Linked DNA regions of Homo sapiens. The protein of the gene in region 1 interacts with the protein of each later gene in a biochemical or structural test. Each region holds a gene or a part of one and is shown on either strand. Other genes may lie near its edges. The genes, in order: TNFRSF8 and TNFSF8.

The links.
Region 2: the proteins of TNFRSF8 (region 1) and TNFSF8 form a complex in vitro, tested with the Homo sapiens proteins (2 studies listed by BioGRID and IntAct).

What each region holds. Positions count from the first base shown.
Region 1 is NC_000001.11:12,058,097-12,068,264, forward strand, and holds the start of TNFRSF8 (tumor necrosis factor receptor superfamily member 8 isoform 1 precursor), read left to right. Parts: upstream 1-5,206; 5' UTR 5,207-5,502; coding exon 5,503-5,565; intron 5,566-10,168. UniProt on the Homo sapiens protein: Receptor for TNFSF8/CD30L. May play a role in the regulation of cellular growth and transformation of activated lymphoblasts. Regulates gene expression through activation of NF-kappa-B.
Region 2 is NC_000009.12:114,919,432-114,929,232, reverse strand, and holds part of TNFSF8 (tumor necrosis factor ligand superfamily member 8), read left to right. Parts: intron 1-9,801.

The DNA.
Region 1 (10,168 bases):
GCAGCCCCATGGGACTGAAGCCTCCTACCCACAGCCGTGGGAGTGGCTAATCCTGGAAGCAGATGCTCCAGCCCCACTCAAGCCTTCAGATGACTGCCGCCCTGGCCCACATCTTGATGGCAATCCCTGAGCCAGCATCACCCTGTCAAGTCTCTCCCAAATTGCTGACTCACAGAAACAGCGCAATATAATGTTTATTGTTTTCAGCCACTAGGTTCTGAGGCACATAGCAATAGATAATAATACATTCAGAGAGGAGAAATGACTTCCCAAAGTCACATGGCCAGACCAGGACTTATACATCAGTGCTCTTTCTCCTGGGGAAAGCAAGGGTGAGAGAGGCCTGGGGAGGGAAAAGAAGGCAGCTGAGGCTTCAGAGTCAGACAGGGTTGGAGTAAATCCTAGCCCTGCCACCCTCATGCTGTGTGACCTCAGGCAAGTGACTTAACTACTCTGAGCCTCAGTTCATTTATAAAGTGGGGATAGCAATACTGACTTGAAATCTTGATGCCAGGATTAAATGTCTGACCAAGGGCCTGGTACACAGCAGGAGCTCAATGAATGACACTGTTAATGTTACTATGCAGAATCTTTAAGAGCATCCCCGAGGGCCTCACAGCCTTCCCTCCTGCCCATGGGAAGGGGCACAACAAACCTAGTTCTGGAGAGCCAGTGCCCCTTTGCTTAGTTTCCAACCAGGCTTGGTCTAGGGGTGTCATGCTTGTGGGTGTGCATTGCTGGGGTTCACCCAGGCAGCTGAGAACCCCTAATGTTGGTGCCTCAAAAGGGCAGGGAGATCTGGGGATGTGAGTTGGAGGGAGCCTGACATGGGTCCTGCCGATTAGGACTGGTGGAGGCCAAGGGTGACCCAGAGAAGCCTAATGGAGAGTCCTACTGCTACCAAGGCTCCCAAGAAAGTTGCTCAGAAAAGGTGCACCTGCGGCTGGGCGCGGTGGCTCTTGCCTGTAATCCCAGCACTTTGGGAGACCAAGGCATGCAGATCACTTGAGGTCAGGAGTTCAAGACCAGTCTGGCCAACATGGTGAAACCCTGTCTCTACTAAAAATACAAAAATCAGCTGAGTGCAGTGATGCTCGCCTGTAATCCCAGCTACTCGGGAGGCTAAGCATGAGAATCGCTTGAACCTGGGGAGGGGGAGGTTGTAGTGAGCCGAGATTGCACCACTGCTCTCCAGCCTGGGCAACAGAGTGAGACTCCATCTCAAAAAAAAAAAAAAAGAAAGAAAGAAAAGGTGCACCTGGACCTATTGAAGAAGAAAGGCCCCAGCCTCCCCTCTCTGATTTCCAGCCTCCTACCTGCCAGCTGCTGCCTGGGCCAGAAAGAACCCTTTATCTGCTAAGGGTATTTTGGGGCCATTTGGGACTCGGGTTCCCAGCTGTTGGAGGAAGTCCCTGAATTTCCTGAACCAAGTTGGGACCTTGTGTCTTGCTCAGCATCACTTTGGGGACACAGATTCCCAATTCCCCTTGGATGGCTTCCTACTGCATTCACCTTCCTCACCTTTCCTCCAAGAAGCCCACCGAGCTGAGACTGTGTGAGCAAGCGCTCCTCGCTCCCCAGTCTCCTGTAGCCCCTCGGGCTTGGCTTCCTTCCACAGCTTGCTCTGGAGGGCCCCACGACCCCACAACAAGGACTGCTGCTGTGCCTTGCACAGAGCCTAGGGACTTCCCCTTCTACTCTTCACAGCACTTTCATACCACCTGAAACCTGCCGAGGGCACCCGGGGGCTCTATCCACTGCCTGCTTTTAAGAGTCCCATGAATGGCTGTTTTCCTTGGTTGCTACCAGCCCATCTCCCCCTGGGATCCAGCTGGCTCCCTGGCCACAAAATGTGCCTTCCCTCCACTTAAGCCATGTGTCAGCTACTTTCCTGGGCGCCCTGGGGGAATTCTGGTTCTCAGGAGTACACAGTTTCCTGGGGCAGAGGGATGCATGAACCAGTCATTATGGTTATGACATGATGAGATCAGATCTAGAATTGCGGCACAAAAAATGACAGAAACCACTTTTTGACTGGGAAGAGGGCTGGGGGACAGGAGACACTGCCAGGAAAGCAACAAGGAGGAGGTGGCATTGGAACAGGTTAGGAAGATGATCAGGAGTCTGTGTGCGTCCCAGGTGGAGGCCAGCGTGGGCAAAGGCTGGCAGGGGTGAGAAGGCTGCACATTTGGCTGGAGTATAGGTCCAGGAGAAGTAAAAAGGCACAAGGGAGGAGTCAGCCCCTGCCAGGCTGTGAGCAGACTTGTGCACCCTTGCATTTGGGTGACTCTGACCCAGGGGAGCCACTGCAGGGGTTCCTTTCCTGCAGAATGGGCATAAAAGTAGGACCTTGTTCATGGGGTTTTCATGAGGATACAAGAAACCAATGCCTGAAAACTCTTAGCACAAAATAAGCACTCAAAGGTAGCTGTTATTGTTATCATTAAATGAATAATATAATTTTCTACGTGGTCCTCTGCCAAAACACACACCATACTTCCGCAAGGGTTCTCTACAGGGGAGTGTCTTGGTGAGATGTGTGTGCTAGAAAGGTCTCTTTGGAAATCCATGGAGGGAAGGATATGAGGGAGAGACAAGTTTCCACAACATCTATAGATTTATCCTTTTTAATGGATGTGCAATATTCCATTAAATGGATGTACCACAATTTCCGTAATCATTTCTTGTTGTGAATCTCAGAGTATTTCAAAAATTTATAAATAATATATAAGGAAATGTTACTGTATAGTTTTCTTTTTTCTTTTTCTAGTTTTCCAGTTAAATTATTTCCTTAGTTTTTCTTCACTGAGGTGAAATTACTGAGCCACTCACAAGTAGTACACATTTTTTTTTTTTTTTGGCTTTTGCTAAAAATTGCCATACTGCTTTCTGAAAAGGGTTGTAACATTTACCAGCAGAGTATGAATGAGTATTCTGGTCTCACCACAACTTTGGGGTTGGATTTACCAAAATTGTTTTTATAAAGCAAAAAAAAAAAAATGATGATTGTATAGATCTAAAAGGTTATCAAAGGTTGCTTGAATTTGCATTTCTTTAATTACTAAAAAGGTTAAACTTATAAAACTTGTAATTGATTTTTATTTGTATTTCTCCTTGTGCAAGCTATTTTGATGCTGTTGTTCATTTATTTATTCAAAACACCAGCCCTTCTCTCTCTCTCTTTTTTAATTAAACAAAAAATAGAGATGAGGTCTTGCTACGTTACCCGGGCTGGTCTCAAACTGGGCTCAAGTGATCCTCCAACCTCGGCCTCCCAAAGTGTTGGGATTACAGATATGAGCCATGTCACCCAGCTGCCAGCTTTTCTACTTTTGTAGTAGAAAGCTCTGGACTGGGAAGCAGGTGTCTTGCGTTCCTCCTGTCCCTGTCTGGTTCTGTCATTATCACAGGCAGGTCACTTCCATAATTGCTTACCTCATTGTTTAACATAGTCCCAGCTCAAACAGCCTAAGATACTGGGCCTGGTACATCCAGAGGAGAGTCTGGAAGTGGGTCTCTTGGGAAGGGGCATGATGGAGCAGTTTTCCCAAGTGGAGTCCAGCAGCCCCAGGAGGGTTGAGCATGGAGTGGTCAGTTGTGGAGACCTTGCTGGGAAGTTCCTGGTGGGAGGTTATCACTCCTACCCTATAGGGCCTTCACCTGATGGAGGCCTGGTACCTCGCAGGACAGATCAAGGTAGACACAGAAGCCAGAGTATCCTTAGGCTATTCTGGGCTCAGGGAAAATAACTGGCCCACCCTTAATTAGAGCACCTAGGACTGCCTGCCTATTTCTGAGCCTTGGCTTTCACATCTGAAAACCAAACAAAATCAGTCAAAAGAACCCTTGACCTGTGGCCCACCCAGCAGATGCTCAACACAGACACACGGAATGTGGAATAAAAGGAGCAAAGAGAAAACCCAGGGGATGGGGAAGCACTGGAAGGGAAAATCATTCACCAGCAAATGAGAACATAGTACGAGGAGGCTTGAATCATTTCTGTTAGGAGAGAGTGCCAGCCGCCTCCTCCAGGAAGAAAACTCTAAAGGGTCAGGCCTCAGGGAAATAAAATGATCTATACCATCCATCAGTTCCTCCAACATTCAGTCCATCCATCTACCAATCCACCCACCCATTTACCCACTCACCTGCTGCTCATCCATCCATCCATCCATCCACCTATGCATCCATCCATCCATCCATCTATGCATCCATCCATCCACCCATCCACCCACCCATTTACCCACTCACCTGCTGCTCACCCATCCATCCATCCATCCATCCATCCATCCATCCATCCATCCACTTATGCATCCATCCATCCACTTATGCATCCATCCATCCATCCATCCATCCATCCATCCATCCATCCACCTATGCATCCATCCATCCATCCATCCATCCATCCATCCATCCATCCATCCATCCACTTATGCATCCATCCATCCATCCATCCATCCATCCATCCACCTATGCATCCATCCATCCATCCATCTATGCATCCATCCATCCACCCATCCACCCACCCATTTACCCACTCACCTGCTGCTCACCCATCCATCCATCCATCCATCCATCCACTTATGCATCCATCCATCCATCCATCCATCCATCCACTTATGCATCCATCCATCCATCCATCCATCCATCCATCCATCCATCCATCCACCTATGCATCCATCCATCCATCCATCCATCCATCCATCCATCCATCCATCCACTTATGCATCCATCCATCCATCCATCCATCCATCCATCCATCCATCCATCCACCTATGCATCCATCCATCCATCCATCCATCCACCAATTTATCATCCACTCACTGATTCATTTTACAGCAAATGCTTATGAATGGGGATGGGTGGGTGATGGTTGCTTTTTCTGCAGTCTCCCTAGGCCAGTTGTCCCTTCCAAAGAATCTCAAGGGCATGGGAGAAGGTCCTGGCTGATCGTGTCAGGGACAGGAAACTACTCACATTTCACCGTTTCTTGGGGCAGGAGTGGAGGTGGGGGCATTGGAACCCCCTTGGGGCCTCCTAATATCCTGTGAGTCCCCACCTCCAGGGCCAGAAGCTGCCTGCCTCCGCTCCCCGCAGCCCAGGTGCGGCGGGCAGCACACTCCCTAGAGCCAGGACCACTAGTTCCGTCAAATCCGGGGCGGGCCATTCAAACAGCTAAGGGAGGCGTCTCCTAGTGTGCCTTTTCCTGAGTCATCTCTGCACGTGTTTGCCCCCTTTTTTCTTCGCTGCTTGTAGCTAAGTGTTCCTGGAACCAATTTGATACGGGAGAACTAAGGCTGAAACCTCGGAGGAACAACCACTTTTGAAGTGACTTCGCGGCGTGCGTTGGGTGCGGACTAGGTGGCCGCGGCGGGAGTGTGCTGGAGCCTGAAGTCCACGCGCGCGGCTGAGAACCGCCGGGACCGCACGTGGGCGCCGCGCGCTTCCCCCGCTTCCCAGGTGGGCGCCGGCCGCCAGGCCACCTCACGTCCGGCCCCGGGGATGCGCGTCCTCCTCGCCGCGCTGGGACTGCTGTTCCTGGGGGCGCTACGAGCCTTCCCACAGGTAAGCGGGTGACGGGCGCCTGGGGAGGTGCCGGCGGTCCAGAGCCCGGACAGTGTGGGGTGCGTGGGACGCAAGGGAGGACACTCCTCACCCCGTTCCCTGCCCAGCTGGAGTGAGGGGGCGCGGGTGACAAGCAGGAACACCGGAATATGCTAGCACCCACAGGTGGGAGGCTGGCTGAAGGGCTAGTGGTGGGGGGCGCCTCCTTCTCACCCCGCGATGGCTGGGACTGATTCATTCATTCAGTGTGAATTGGACTGAGAGCACTGCCATACGCGGGAGGCGCTCTTTAGCCCGCCTACCTGCGGGCCCGTCGGGGTCCTGGGCAGATCAGGTGAGGCCGTGGGAGTAGTGGGCAGGCCAGATGGGGCCTCCCTTAGCCATGGGAGGTTGGTCGTCCGCGCTCTACCCTGTTGTGTGCGCGGTCCCGTTTGCCCCCTTCCTAAGCTGGCCACTGGCTGGAGGGTCAAGGAAAGGAGGGAGAGTTGGCTGTGGGTGAGAGTGGGGTGAGGGTGCAGGACCACCGGGATTAGCTTCCCCAATCCGCGTCCGGCAAAGCAACGCTGTGGATTGAATTCGCTGGAGCACGTGGTGGGCATTTGCCCCTGGAAGAAGGTCAGTGGTGGGGCTGAAGTCTATGGTGGGTTGCCTCAGAATTGAGTTTGGGGACTGCTTTAGGAAAACTGAGCACTTACCAGTGGCCAGCGCCAAATTAATCACTGTGGGGAGAATGCAAAGTAACCAGGCGTGTTTCACGGAGCCCAGGGGCTGCTGGAGAGAGAGGCCCTCAGCTGACCCAGGACCCCGGTGGACCCCTGCATAGAACCATAGTAGGTGCGAGTGGATGCCTGCTGAATGATACAGAGGGAAAGGAAGGAGCAGGCTGTTAGTCCAGCGGTGGGTCACGGTGGGGGAGAGGGAAGACCCAGTTCCCCTTTAATCCTACAGGAAGAGAGGACTCCATGCTATGGATCAATTCTAGTCATCTGAACCTTAGGCAGTGGGAGGAGAGTGGCAGAGTGGGCTTTAGGCAGGAGGGAGGAACTATGCAGCAAAGGAGGAACTATGCCCTCTTCCATTTCCAATGGGCAATGTGAGGTATTCCCCCTTTCCCCCCAAGAGGGCAGAGGGGACAAAGCCCTGGCTAGAGACACCCTGTCCCAGCTCTGCAAGCCCTCACCTGGGGGAAGGTAAGAGTTTGGAGTGCCAAGGTCTTGGGGAGATGAAGGGAAGGAAGAGATGTGAGAGGTGCTTGGGGGGCTTTGCTGGTTTGGTTTGGCAGCTGAAGCTCATGTGCTTCCTTTCTGTAGAGTGAAGCCCCCTCCACTTTTTTTAATGTTAGAGACAGGGTCTCACTCTGTTGTCCAGGCTGGAGTGCGATCATAACTCACTACAGCCTGAACTCTCATACCAAACCTTTTTTTTTTTTTTTTTTTTTTGAGACTGAGTCTCACTCTTGTTGCCCATGCTGGAGTGCAATGCTCGATCTCGGCTCACTGCAACCTCTGCCTCCCGGATTCAAGTGATTCTCCTGCCTCAGCCTCCCAGGTAGCTGGGATTACAGGCATGTGCCACCACACCCGGCTAATTTTTGTATTTTTAGTAAAGATGAGGTTTCACCATGTTGGTCAGTCTGGTCTCGAACTCCTGACCTCAAGTGATCCTTCCGTCTCGGCCTCCCAAAGTGCTAGGGTTACAGGCATGAGCCACCACACCCAGCCTCCCATACCCTTTTTAAAATAAAAATACTATATATTTAATTGCACAAGGAATATATAAATATATTCTCAAAGCAAAACTGTAAACGCTACAGATAAAGCCAAGTCTTTTGACACCGCCTCATCCTGATCCCTTCAAAGATATAACCACCATAATTGATTTGGTGTGTTTCCTTTGCAGACCTTTATAAATGCATGTCCATATTTATATTGTTTTAATAGACATATATATAGTTTTCCATATACTATACCCTACAGTACATATGGTTCTTCATTTGGCTTTATAATGTCTATGAGGCATCTTGGTGAGCTTTCCATGCTGAAACTTACAGATCCTCTGCCTATCTTTTAAAATGCTATGTGATCTTTTGCCAAATGGGATGTTTCATAGTTTATTTATGTCCTGGATGGATGGGTGCTAAGGTTGCCACCATTGTTCTTTCTTTCTTTCTTTGTTCTCTACTACAGTGCACAGCCCTATATGGATGCTTTTGGAAATAAATGTCTGTGATTCTTTCCTAGACAAGAGACTGAGAAGAGAATACTGAGGTTGCAGGGCGAAAATGCATTCAAATTAAAAGACACCACCGAACTGCCTTCCAGGGTGGCTGGACAATTTACCCTCCCGCTAGCAGTGCAAGAGAGTAGTAACTTTCCCACATCCTAACCGACATTTGATCTTATCAGCATTTTAATTTTTCTCAATGTGATTAGTGAAAAGGGTTATATCCTTGTTGCCTTAATTTGCATTTCTCGCCTACCGGGGAAGCTGAGCATCTCTCTGGGCTCAGGCACTAGGTCATTTCTTGGCAGGAGTCAGGGAGTCCTTGGGGAAGGGACTACCTGCCCAACACAGTACTCCTTTTTGCCCCTCAAGCCTTCTCCCACTTCTGTTTTTTCCAGTAAAGGTTCGGGAAGCTCGTTATTTTAAAAAAAAAATCCCAAATTAGGGCTTGAATTTCCTTGAGTTTAAAATTTTTTTTTTTTTTTTTGAGATGAAGTCTCCCTCAGCTGCCCAGGCTGGAGTGCAGTGGCACGATCTTGGCTCACTGCAACCACCCTCTCCCAGGTTCAAGTGATTCTACCGTCTCAGCCTCCCTAGTAGCTTGGATTACAGGCACTTGCCATCATGCCTGGCTAATTTTTGTATTTTAGTAGAGATGGGGTTTCATAATGTTGGCCAGGCTGGTCTTGAACTCCTGACCTCAGGAGATCCATCCACCTCGGCATCCCAAAGTGCTGGGATTACAGGCGTGAGCCACCGCCCCCGGCCTAAATTTTTTTTTATTTTTTGGGACAGTCTCACTTTGTCTCCCAGGCTGGAGTGCAGTGGCGCAATCTCAGCTCACTGCAACCTCTGCCTCCTGGGTTCAAGTGATTCTCCTGCCTCAGCCTCCTGAATAGCTGGGATTATAGGTGCCTGCCACCTCACCCAGCTAATTTTTGTATTTTTAGTAGAGATGGGGTTTCGTCATGTTGGTCAGGCTGGTCTCGAGCTCCTGGCCTCAAGTGATCCTCCCACCTCGGCATCCCAAAGTGCTGGGATTACAGGCGTGAGCCACCGTGCCCATCCTGAAGTTCTTTTTTCATCTCTATTTGATTTTTCCCAAGACGCCATCATTTTTCGCCTGGTATTCTGAGGCAGGAATGCTTTCTTGCTAGCTGGCACCATCTGAGAGTTGGCCTCTGATGCTTCGTATCACTGTCTTGTCCAATTGTGTTTTTTTGTAATATGACCCAGGATTAACTGGTGCATATCTGCAGAGAAAAATTTATTCCCCCATAGCTCCATCCTTTTCATCCAGGCACCATGTGGTGGGGTTGCGGGGCGGGGGAAGCCCCAGCTTTCCTGTGAACTCTGTAGACTTAGAAATTCCCCAACATCATGTTCCTTGCCAGTGCTAAGGCTAAACAAGCCTTCCTCCCACATCCATGTACCCCCAATTCCAGCCAGATGTAAGCATCTTTGCTCTGGGTTAGTGTGCAGGCTGGGACCAGGAAGGTTCTCATGAAAGTATCTTAGCTGGGGCCGGGCGCTGTGGCTCACACCTGTAATCCCAGCACTTTGGGAGGCCAAGACAGGCAGATTACTTGAGGCCAGGAGTTCAAGACCAGCCTGGTCAACGTGGTGAGACCCTGTCTCTACTAAAAATACAAAAATTAGCTGGGCATGGTGGCAGGCGCCTGTAATCCCAGCTACTCAGGAGGCTGAGGCAGGAGAATCGCTTGAAACCAGAAGGCGGAGGTTGCAGTGAGCCAGCACTCCCGCCTGGGTGGCAGTGAGACTGTATTTAAAAAAAAAAAGAGGAATTTTAGCTGGGGTGATAGAAAAGCTCTATGTGTGACTCCTCCATCTAGCAATTTAACTTTAAAAGCTTAGCTAGTTACTCCATACAGTGTAGTGCTAATCGTGGAATTTCAGGGAGTGGCAAGAGGGCAGGAGAGATTTTCTGGTTTTGTTTTGCAAAAGGGACATTTCCAGGGCTGCTCAAATCCTGCAGGGAGGCAAGGACGGCGGGGGGGCGGGGGGGGGACCTGGAGAGGAGGGGACCCTGAAGGAGTGGAAGGAGGGTCTGGCTTGTCTTAAAGCCATCCCTTCCCAGGGCGGCACTAGTGCTCTGGGGTCAGGGAGTCGTGTTACTCAGCTTGAGAGCAGTGAGTGCCGGAAGGAGGGGCGTTTACTGTAAGTTTCTGCTTCTGCTCCCACTCATATCTGACTTAGACTCGTTTCTTGAGCAGATTGTGATTCATTCTAAGGTTTTTATACTCCCTCATCACCCTTCTTCACATCAGGACAATCATCAGAAGGAAAATGGGGCTGAAGGATGACTGTGTCTGGCCCGGGGGAGTCCTGGAGGCTTGAGGGTCCTTGGCAATGACAGTAG
Region 2 (9,801 bases), on another chromosome or scaffold:
TTGAAGTAAATGGTAAGATTTGTTTCTGAAAACAGAAGAGGAGGAGAAAGAGGAAGCTTCTTCATATTTTAGAAAATTGGTGTTTACAGAGAATCTACCAGTATATATTATATAGAAAATGCTGTAGTAATAGCATATATTGCTCATGAATTTTTTGATGAAGTTGTTAATGGGTAATTTAAGAGCTGCACCCACCCACATGACCTGCCAAAGTGAGAATATTTCTGTTTCTTACTTCATAGTGCCTACTTTTCGTGGTATTATAATCCTGCTGAATTTATTCTGGTTTTTCTTCAGTTTTCTTAGGCCAAGTACTCTATAGCTTATCAATTGCTGGAAAGAACTAGGCTTTAAAAGGCTTTGATATCTATTTCTCAAGTGTCATCAAGCTTTGAAATTAAATGGAAGCTTTGAAGCTCATATCTCTACAAAAGTGAAAAGAAGGAGTTGCAAATATTTGATTTAGATAGTGGAATTCTTAAAACTCATAATTTAATGGCTTATCTACATCTATTAAGTATAATAATCTTGAAAACACTTTAGGACATCTTTTCTTCTGCAGGGGCTCTGCAATTTCTGTAATTCTAATTTGGAGTGAACCAAGGGTATGTCATTTTATAGCAATGGCCAAAGAAAAGAAATTGAAGTGTCCTTTAAGAAGTTCTTTAGTTAAAGGATCCAACTAGAACTGCTGAGAGAGAGAGAGAGATGGTGGAAAAATGGGTGGCGATGGTGATATATAAAGCTAGAGAGAACTTCAGAGCTCATTCATATCCAACTTTTAGTTGAATTGATTTCTTCTATAAAAGAACCAGAGCAGATCTTTCTGCCTCATTTTTGTAAATGTGGAAAATGAGGAGCAGAGAGGGAACAGGGCTTGAACTACGTCACCCTGAGAAAGTGGTAGAGCCAATACTGCTTGATTGCTTGATGCAAGCAGCATCCCCTTTGCCAATACAGACAGCCACAGAAGCACTAAGAAACATTGCACCCACTCTTCTCTTGGGAGCTTTATCTTCTTGTGCATCCACTTCCTTGACTTACCCCTCATGTTTGGATATGAAAAGATTCACTGTGCAATCTGATTGTACAGTGCGGTGTGCTGTGATTTCTTAGACCAGGAAATATCAGTTGCTTCCTTAAAATTAAGGCTTGCCATGTTAATAGTAGCCGTGGTATATAAAGTGTCAAATGCATTGCACATATCATTTTCAATAAATTCCTCAGACCTTAACTGTTGTAAGACCTAACAAGAAAAAAAAAAGCATCATTTTCCCATTAACTTGAGTTATCAGGAAGGGTTTCCTATAGGAAGATGGAATGTAGACTGACTTGAAAACAGGAAGAACTCAGACAAGTGAAGAGACTCTAAAAGAAACTCTAGGAAAGAAATCAATGGGAGAAAGCCAAGGAGCTTAGACTCACATCACCATTATTAAAAATGGAATGAGTTAATGGTCAATTAGCACTCTGTATGTGATGGGAACAGGGGTGGAGAACCATAAGAATGGTTTTACTGGCACAAGAAGTCACACAATTCTTATCCCAAGGCACGTGTATAGACAAAATTTAAAACAGCTAAGTCATAACATATAATGAGTGATTAAAGGGATACCATGACACCACAAGTTAAGGAGAGAATATATTTTTCCAGACAGGTTTAAGAAAAACTCCTGGGGATTAGTTTCAGGTTGGCTTGAGAAATGTGAACAATTTCAAACAGGCAGGGAAGGGAAAGCAGAGGAGAGGCACTCCTAGCCAATGGAACAGCATGAGCAAAGAGACAGAGGAGAGAAGACAGAGAAAGTGTAGGGAAATCAACAAAGCTTGCCTTGAGGTTTGACTTGAAGATCAGATAACTCCAAGCTTAAACTCCTTGGGAGAGACAAAGGAGGAACTTAGGTTTCTATCTCAAATATTTATTAAATATCTACTGTGTGCAGGACATTGTTCTAAAGCCTTGAAAAAAAACAACAAAATCCCTGTCTTTGAGTTACTATGGAACTTACTTCTTTCCTGTGATATTTTTGAAGCCTCAGTGGTGGTTGTATTTTGTTTTATTTACATTTAAGCCAGCATATTTATAAAATAAATACTATTTTATATAATAATATTACTTTATATTATAAAATAAACATTTTATATTATAAATATATTATAAAATAAACATTTTATATTATAAATATATTATAAAATAAACATTTTATGTTATAAATATATTATAAAATAAACATTTTATATTATAAATATTATATTATAAAATAATATTTTATGTTATTTAATATTTTATAATATATTGATATATTTTATAATATTTATATTAGGAAATACTATACTTACATGGTTTAAGAAAAGTAACTAGCAAATAAGAGAAAAGAAAGTAAAAATCTTCACACCTTCCCCACCCAACCACTAATCCCTCTTCACGGAGATAACCACCATTGACAGATTCTTGTGTGTCCTTCCAAAAATCTGTGCATCTACAAATACACAGTACACATTATAATATATAATAAACCCATGGGTCATTATAATAAACCCATAATTTTGCATCTTGCTTTATTCACTTGACAACACACTGTATATCTTAGAGATCCTTCCATGTCAGTACATAGAAGTTCATTTCATTCTTTTGAAGAGTCGCATAGTACGAAGTGTAAATGCTTCATAATTTATCTGTGCCTGGTGAGAGACATCAATGTTTTCTCTAGAATTTGTGCCCTCTGTGCGTGTCTGCAAGTATATCTGGGGAATAAATTTTTAGTGATAGGAATGGAATGTGCATTTTCTTTTTTTCTTTTTTTGGAGACAGTCTCGCTCTGTCGCCCAGGCTGGAGTGCAGTGGCGCGATCTCTGCTCACTGCAAGCTCCGCCTCCCGGATTCCCCCCATTCTCCTGCCTCAGTCTCCCGAGTAGCTGGAACTACAGGTGCCCGCCACCACGCCTGGCTAATTTTTTTGTATTTTTAGTAGAGACGGGGTTTCACCGTGTTAGCCAGGAGGAATGTGCATTTTCGCTTCAATAAATGTCAGTCTGTCTCCAAAGAGATTGTACTAGTGTACCCCTGAGGAATTAAAAGTCCTACCAACAGACACTTCTTTACATCAATATGGAAAGAAAAAAATGATTTACTGTTGAGCAAGCACAATTGTACATGCAAATAGGCAGCCTGCAACAGACTACAAAGTCAGGATGAAATTTCACACAATTAATCTAGCAAAGCAAAAGAAGAAAAAATAAAACTTCTCTTATCTCCTCAAGAGACAGGGGAATACATAATGAGATAGACAATGAGATAGACTCCTAGGTTAACACCACAGGTAGGTGTTTACATTTCAAAAAGCCTCTGAAGCCCTCAACCTTAGAGACGTCTTTGTTTTGTAAACCAGGAGACTGGGCTTCTCTAGCCCCAGGGGAGAATGTAAAGGGTTACATTCCAAAAGGTTGGAGTATAGGGTTCACAATCGGTAGGCTTTCAAGAAAGAAGCTGCCTCTTTTCCCTTTATAAGCAAAAAAAATTCTTTTTTTAAAAATAATAATAATAATACTCTTTTTAAATTATCTCCACACCAACAGTGGAGCTGAGCACCTGTTTAAGGGGAGTAATTATTGGTGGTGGTGATGGTGGTGTGGTATTTTGGGTTTATTTTTAAGCTCAGATACAAAATAGAAGTGTAGGGTAAACACACCTGATATAGCAATAACTGAAGCATACCCTTAGAATAACCACATATGGCAGACACGTCTGAATGGGTGTTCCAAGCTAGAGAGTCCAGGAGTGGTCAACCTGGAGACTCATTCCTTGTCTGTGAGGAACATCTGAGCCCCCAGCCCATCCCGTGGAACATGGGCCATACAGGAGATTGAGGCCTGAGTTTTTGGTTACATGAAGGCTGCCAGGTGGAGGCCATTAAGGGGAGGCTGTTAAGTGAGCATGCTATAGAAACTGCATGCTATTTGCAAGTGGTTGTGGTTTTCCTGCCCAACCCACCACCACTGGACGGTATATAAGGTGAATATGTTGTCCAGCCTGCTGCCATGAGATCATTTCTGTCCGTAAAGCAGTTTTCCTGTTCAGCTCACTGCCACTGGACTCTCTCCCCTGTATGTAAGCCCCCAATAAAACCCCACATCTTGTTTGCTGACTCTACACCTCTTCTTTAGCCTCTTGAACATGGTGCCTTCCCTGTTGAGCTAATAGGAGTTCGGCACAAGAAGAAGTTATTTGGAATGCCCCATGACACTTCCCACTACCCAAGGTACTCCCTCCACCTGACATTCATTCCATTTAGCAATCCAGAAAAATCCACTGTAAATCTTCCCAGGAGCGAGCCCTGTGTGAGGTTATGTGGGGAGGTCCCCAGTGGAAGGGGCAAGACCCTGTCTTCTGGGAACTCTGTTAAATTGAGCAGATGAAGCCCAAACACCAAGTTCTTGGGTTCCGGGCAGAATGGCACAGAATGCCACAGAGCAAAGGAGAAGTCATTTCTGCTTGGGATGAAGGAGGAGTTTGTAGAAGAGCTAGAACAAAAGCCAGGCTTCCAAGAATTACAACAGTCATGGCTTATTCCCAAAGTCTTATTTTGAAAATGTTCAAACCTACAGAAAAGTGGAATGGCAAATGCTAATATAACCTTGGCACCTAGATTGCTGTGTCAATATCTTGCTGTATTTTTGCTCTCTCTATATAAGGATATGAAAGTAAGCTGGAGGCAGCATGACCTTTCACTCACATGTACTTCAGTACCCATCTCTTAACTAACTGCAATGCCATTATCATTGCCAAGAGAGTTAATATTAATTCAATAATATCATCTAATAATAATATATGGTCCATATTTTAATTTCTTTACTTGTTCAAAAATGTCTTATAGGTATGGCTGTTGTGTTTTTGTTTGTTTGAACCAATCTAGGGTCACATACTGTGTTATGATAATATCTGTTTTAATCTAGAACTTTGCTTTTTAAAGTGTGGTCCTGGGCCTTGTTAGAAATTCAAAATCTCAGGGCTCACCCCAGATCTCCTGAATCCGAATCTGCATTTTAACAAGCTCCTCAGGTGATCTGTATGCACATTAAAGTTTGAGAAGCACCGAGCTAAAATCTCCTTTGCCCTTTGGTGTTTGTTTTAAATAACATTGACCTTTTTTTAAAGGGTCCAGGCCAATTCTGTTGTAGAAATCCATTCATAGCCTGGATTTGTCTTAGTATTAACTCATGGTTATACTCAGATGAAACATTTTTAGTAAGAATAGTATATAGGTAATTCTATATACGTCTTATTGTAGCACAGCTAGAGACATATGTCAGGTTGTCCCATTTTTTTTGACTATAGGTTTAGTCACTTGATTAAAGCGGTGACCACCAACTATCGCCTTTGTAAAACATTTTTTCTTTCTCATTAACAAGTAATCTGGCCAGGAGCAGTGGCTCATGCCTGTAATCCCAACACTTTGGGAGGCAAAGGTGTGTGGATCACTTGAGGCCAGGATTTCAAGACCAGGCTGGCCAACATGGCGAAATCCTGTCTCTACAAAAAATACTAAAATTAGCCGGATGTGGTGGCACACACCTGTAGTCCCAGCTACTAGGGAGGCTGAGGCAGGAGAATCTCTTGAACCCAGGAGGCCAAGGTTGCAGTGAACAGAGATGGCACCACTGCACTCCAGCCTGAGTGACAGAGTGAGATTTCATCTCAAAAAAAAAAAAAGAAAGAAAGAAAGAAAGAAAGAAAGAAAGAAAGAAAGAAAGAAAAAGAAAGAAAAGTAATCTATGTATGGGATAATACTCTGAAGACATAAATACTCTTCACTTGGTGGTTTTGCCATTTCTTAATGATCCTTGTCTGAATCAGCTAATGCACTGAGGGTTGAAAAAGAGGGAATGCCTAAGTCTGTCACTCCTTCCAAATTTATTAGCTGTCATTCTTCTGTAGAGAAGAGCTCCCCATTGGAAAGATGGTGGCAGGAGGAGGAGGAGCAGGATATTCCAGGTGAGGCAAAAGAGAAAGCAGTGGCACAGCCCATAAGAAGGCAAGCCCAGGTGTGAGGAGAGGAATGGTAGGGCCAGAAGTCAGTCCAGATTGTACAGAGGAGAAGAAACGGAACTAGATGATAAAAAGATTTGATAGAAGAGACGGAGAGGACAGGATATCACTGCCATCTTCAAACTAGAAAGATTTCCTAAGCCCATATCTGAGCCCAAATCTATACTCAGCCTCCTACAGCCATCTCTCAAGACCTCAGGTGTTCTGATTGCCTACTGAGTAGTGTATTTAAGACTTTGCTACTCAAGGTGTGGTCCATGGCCTGGCAACATTGGCATCACCTGGATGCTCATCAAAAATGCAAAACCTAAGGGCCCCTCCCTACTGAGTCAGAATCTGCTTTTACCAAAATCCCCCGATGCTGGTCAGTCTTTTAAAGTGGGAGAAGCACTGCTTTAAGCCACTGTGGTCCACTTCTCACTTTGGCAGACCATGTGCTCCCAGTAAAAATAGTCTTCCCCTGAGGATTTTCTATGACTTCTATTCACTTTTCCATGAAATTTCAGGAGATTTTTCTGCTCAGCTTTATCCTGCCCTCATCTAGAGAGGCAATGTAGCAGGACATTGAAGAGCAGTGCCTTCAAAGTCAAACACCTAAGTTTGAATCCCTTCTGTGCTATTCGCCACCTGTGGGACCTTCTATAAACATTATCACATTATGAAATCACTTCTCTAAGTCTTGATGAATCCGTAACTCTTGGGGTCAAGTTAAAGGCCAAATGAAATAGTGCATGTAGAGTAACCCTCATTAAGTGCCCAATGAATTAGCTTGAAAATAAGAGGTATCCTTGGCAAAAGTCCCTTTGGGCCATGAGCCAGAGCCCACCTTACAAGACTATGTGAGGGCAACAAGGAAAGGAATGTGGACTTCCCCTGGCATATTCCAAACAGAGCTGCCTTTGATCATTTTTGGTCCACGGGGGCATTTTGTGTCCAAAGCAAATTCAGGAGCTCATTGCATCTGCTGATCATTCCTCTGTGAAAAGAAACAAGCCTTTCAAGGTATTGAGGCAAATTAAGCACATCATTAACACCAAGGCAGTGCTCAAAATAGCTATGCTTTTCAAATACTTGCTAACACTTTATAATATCTTATGATGTCCACAATAACCCAGTGGAAAGATGGATGATTAGCCATCTAACCACTGATTAAAGGAGAAGAAAACACTCCAAGGCAAGGAAGATGGTTGGGATGGGGGTCATTTTACCTGGAGACAAACAGGTTAAACATGACCATTCCTCCCTCCATACATGAAAATAACTTTATTACTGTTGGGAATACTCATCAGACATCTACAGAGGCCAAAAACAGAGGAAGTACACTTAAGGAAGTATACCTCGTTGATAACCACGGAGACAAAGTTTCCTGAGCTACTCAGTGGAGCTGAGAATGAAAACCTGGGAGAGTCCATTTGTTTGTGCCTGCATTCAGCCTAGGCACTACCTTACACAAAGCCAAGTCATTGAGCAAGATAGTTCACATTTCCTGAGCTAGGACCCAGATCCCCAGACAAGATTAGGGAGAGAATTCTAGGACTGGGGGACATCTTGCCAAAGAGGAGTTGGTGAACAACACTTAGTGTAATACCTGTTTATGAACAGTCTTCACTGAATTTCAACAGCCATCATCTCCTTAGACATTGCTTCTCCACCTCCAAATGCAGGGACTGCTTATGGGAGAGGGGAGGAGGGAGGAATGAGCTCTTCTATCCTTTGTTTCTGGAAACAGCATCTCTCCTAGGGCAGTGGAAAGTACACCAGAGAATTTCAGTCCAAGATCTGCCTCTGACTCATGAGTGCCTTGGTTTCCTCCTCCATAAAATTAGCTTGATGGACTGAAAGATGTCTCAATCTCCCTCTGGCTTTGATTGTCTAATCTTGACTACCATGGGTAGCTAGGAGAAGCTGTAAAGACCTCATCCCAAGAGCTCTTCAAAATAGGAATAGTCACGCTTCTGTCATGGACTTCCTGGGCCCTGGGTGAAGGTTTAAATGACAGGTTTCTTTCCTGTTTGAGATGCTCTGCTTTTGACATCCCATGTCTGAAATTAGGAAACCAGAATGCATTCAAGTGACAGAGAGAAAAGAGGCTTTCCTTGACCCCCATATAAATTAGGTCCTCCTCTCTGATATTACTTCTCACAGCTGTGCTATTCAAAGTGTTCTGTGGGCCAGGAGTGTCAGTATTACTCGAAAGCTGCCAGAAATACAGAATGTTGGCCAGGTGCGGTGGCTCACGCTTGTAATCCCAGCACTTTGGGAGGCCCAGGCGGGCAGATCACAAGAGGTCAGGAGTTCAAGACCAGCCTGGTCAACATGGCGAAATCCCGTCTCTACTAAAAATACAAAAATTAGCCGGGGGTGGTGGTGGGCCCCTGTAGTCCCAGCTACTGGGGAGGCTGAGGTAGAGGAATTGCTCGAATCCAGGAGATGGAGGCTACAGTGAGCCGAGATTGCGCCACTGCACTCCAGCCTGGGTGACAGAGTGAGGCTCCATCTCAAAAAGAAAAAAATGCAGAATGTTAAACTCCCCCCAAATCTGCAGAATCAGAATTTGCATTTTAACGAGACTCCCAGGTGATTCATATGCACATTGAAGTTCTAACAGCACTACCTTAAAGCACTATGATTCTTTTCCTCCATAGCTCTTGCCACAACCTGCAATTCTAATTACACATTTATTTATATTTTTTAAATGGCTGCCTTAATGACTAAAGCATAAAATCCATAGGATGTCTTTTAGTGACTAACGTAGTTCCTACCACAGACCAGGTGCTCATTCAAGGTGTGCTGCATGAATGATTCTCTAGGACTTCCCGAACTGCTAGCAGCCTCTGCAATGATGGCTGTACCAGGTTTGCTATTCTAGCCTCTCTCACTGTCCCTGTATATGTCCCTGGGCAGCTTGATGAATTTGATGATTGTGGTAAGACATTTCAATGCAGATATTTTTCTTAGTGCATTTGCACATCATGCTAATCAATGGTCACGCTTGGCAGTAAGTTGTAAGTTGTTTATTAAATTTTAAAATGTTGTGTGTTGTCTCACAAGGGCAACATAAAGGGGAATTTTGTGATATCAAGTTTTCCTGCAAACTGCATGCATAACTGAAAGACTACAAAAACTTAGCTTTGTTAGGTTAAAAGCTTTCAACTAAGGCAACAAAGTCGTAGACTGTTACAGTAGGAAGGGCCTTCCAGGACAAGTTTGCCTCCCTTCCCCTGAGAAGGTAGGGCCCAAATGTTTAAGCTGACTTCCCCCATCTCCAGATTGGTGCTGTGCCAGGGCTTTGCCTTCAGGAGACCTCCTTGACTCACTACCAACCTCTTGCACTAGAGAAGAGATCCATTCATAAGAAAACAAGCTTTCAGCGGAAGGCAAATGACAGACCTCCCAGGGAAATGTTACAATAATAGGGGAACTCCAGATGGTCCTAGTGTTCATACAGAACACTAAGAAAATAAGCTGTGGGCGGCTGCTAATTTCTTGCTTTGGTAGAGGTTAGGAAGTTGGTTTTTTCGCATACACACGCTCACACCTCTCTAGGTCTTTACTAATATTTTAATTCAATGCAATACAGGAGATTCCAACCTGGGCAGGTCAAAAGATGAATAAAATACTTCATTCCTTATTGGCAGAATATTGTATGGGTGTCTCCATGGCTGGAGAGAAAGGGGAGGGACAATCAGGGTGTGAAACTTAGTGTCTGAAGAATTTATTAGGGGAAAAGAACTGTGCCTCTCTGCTTCTGTTAA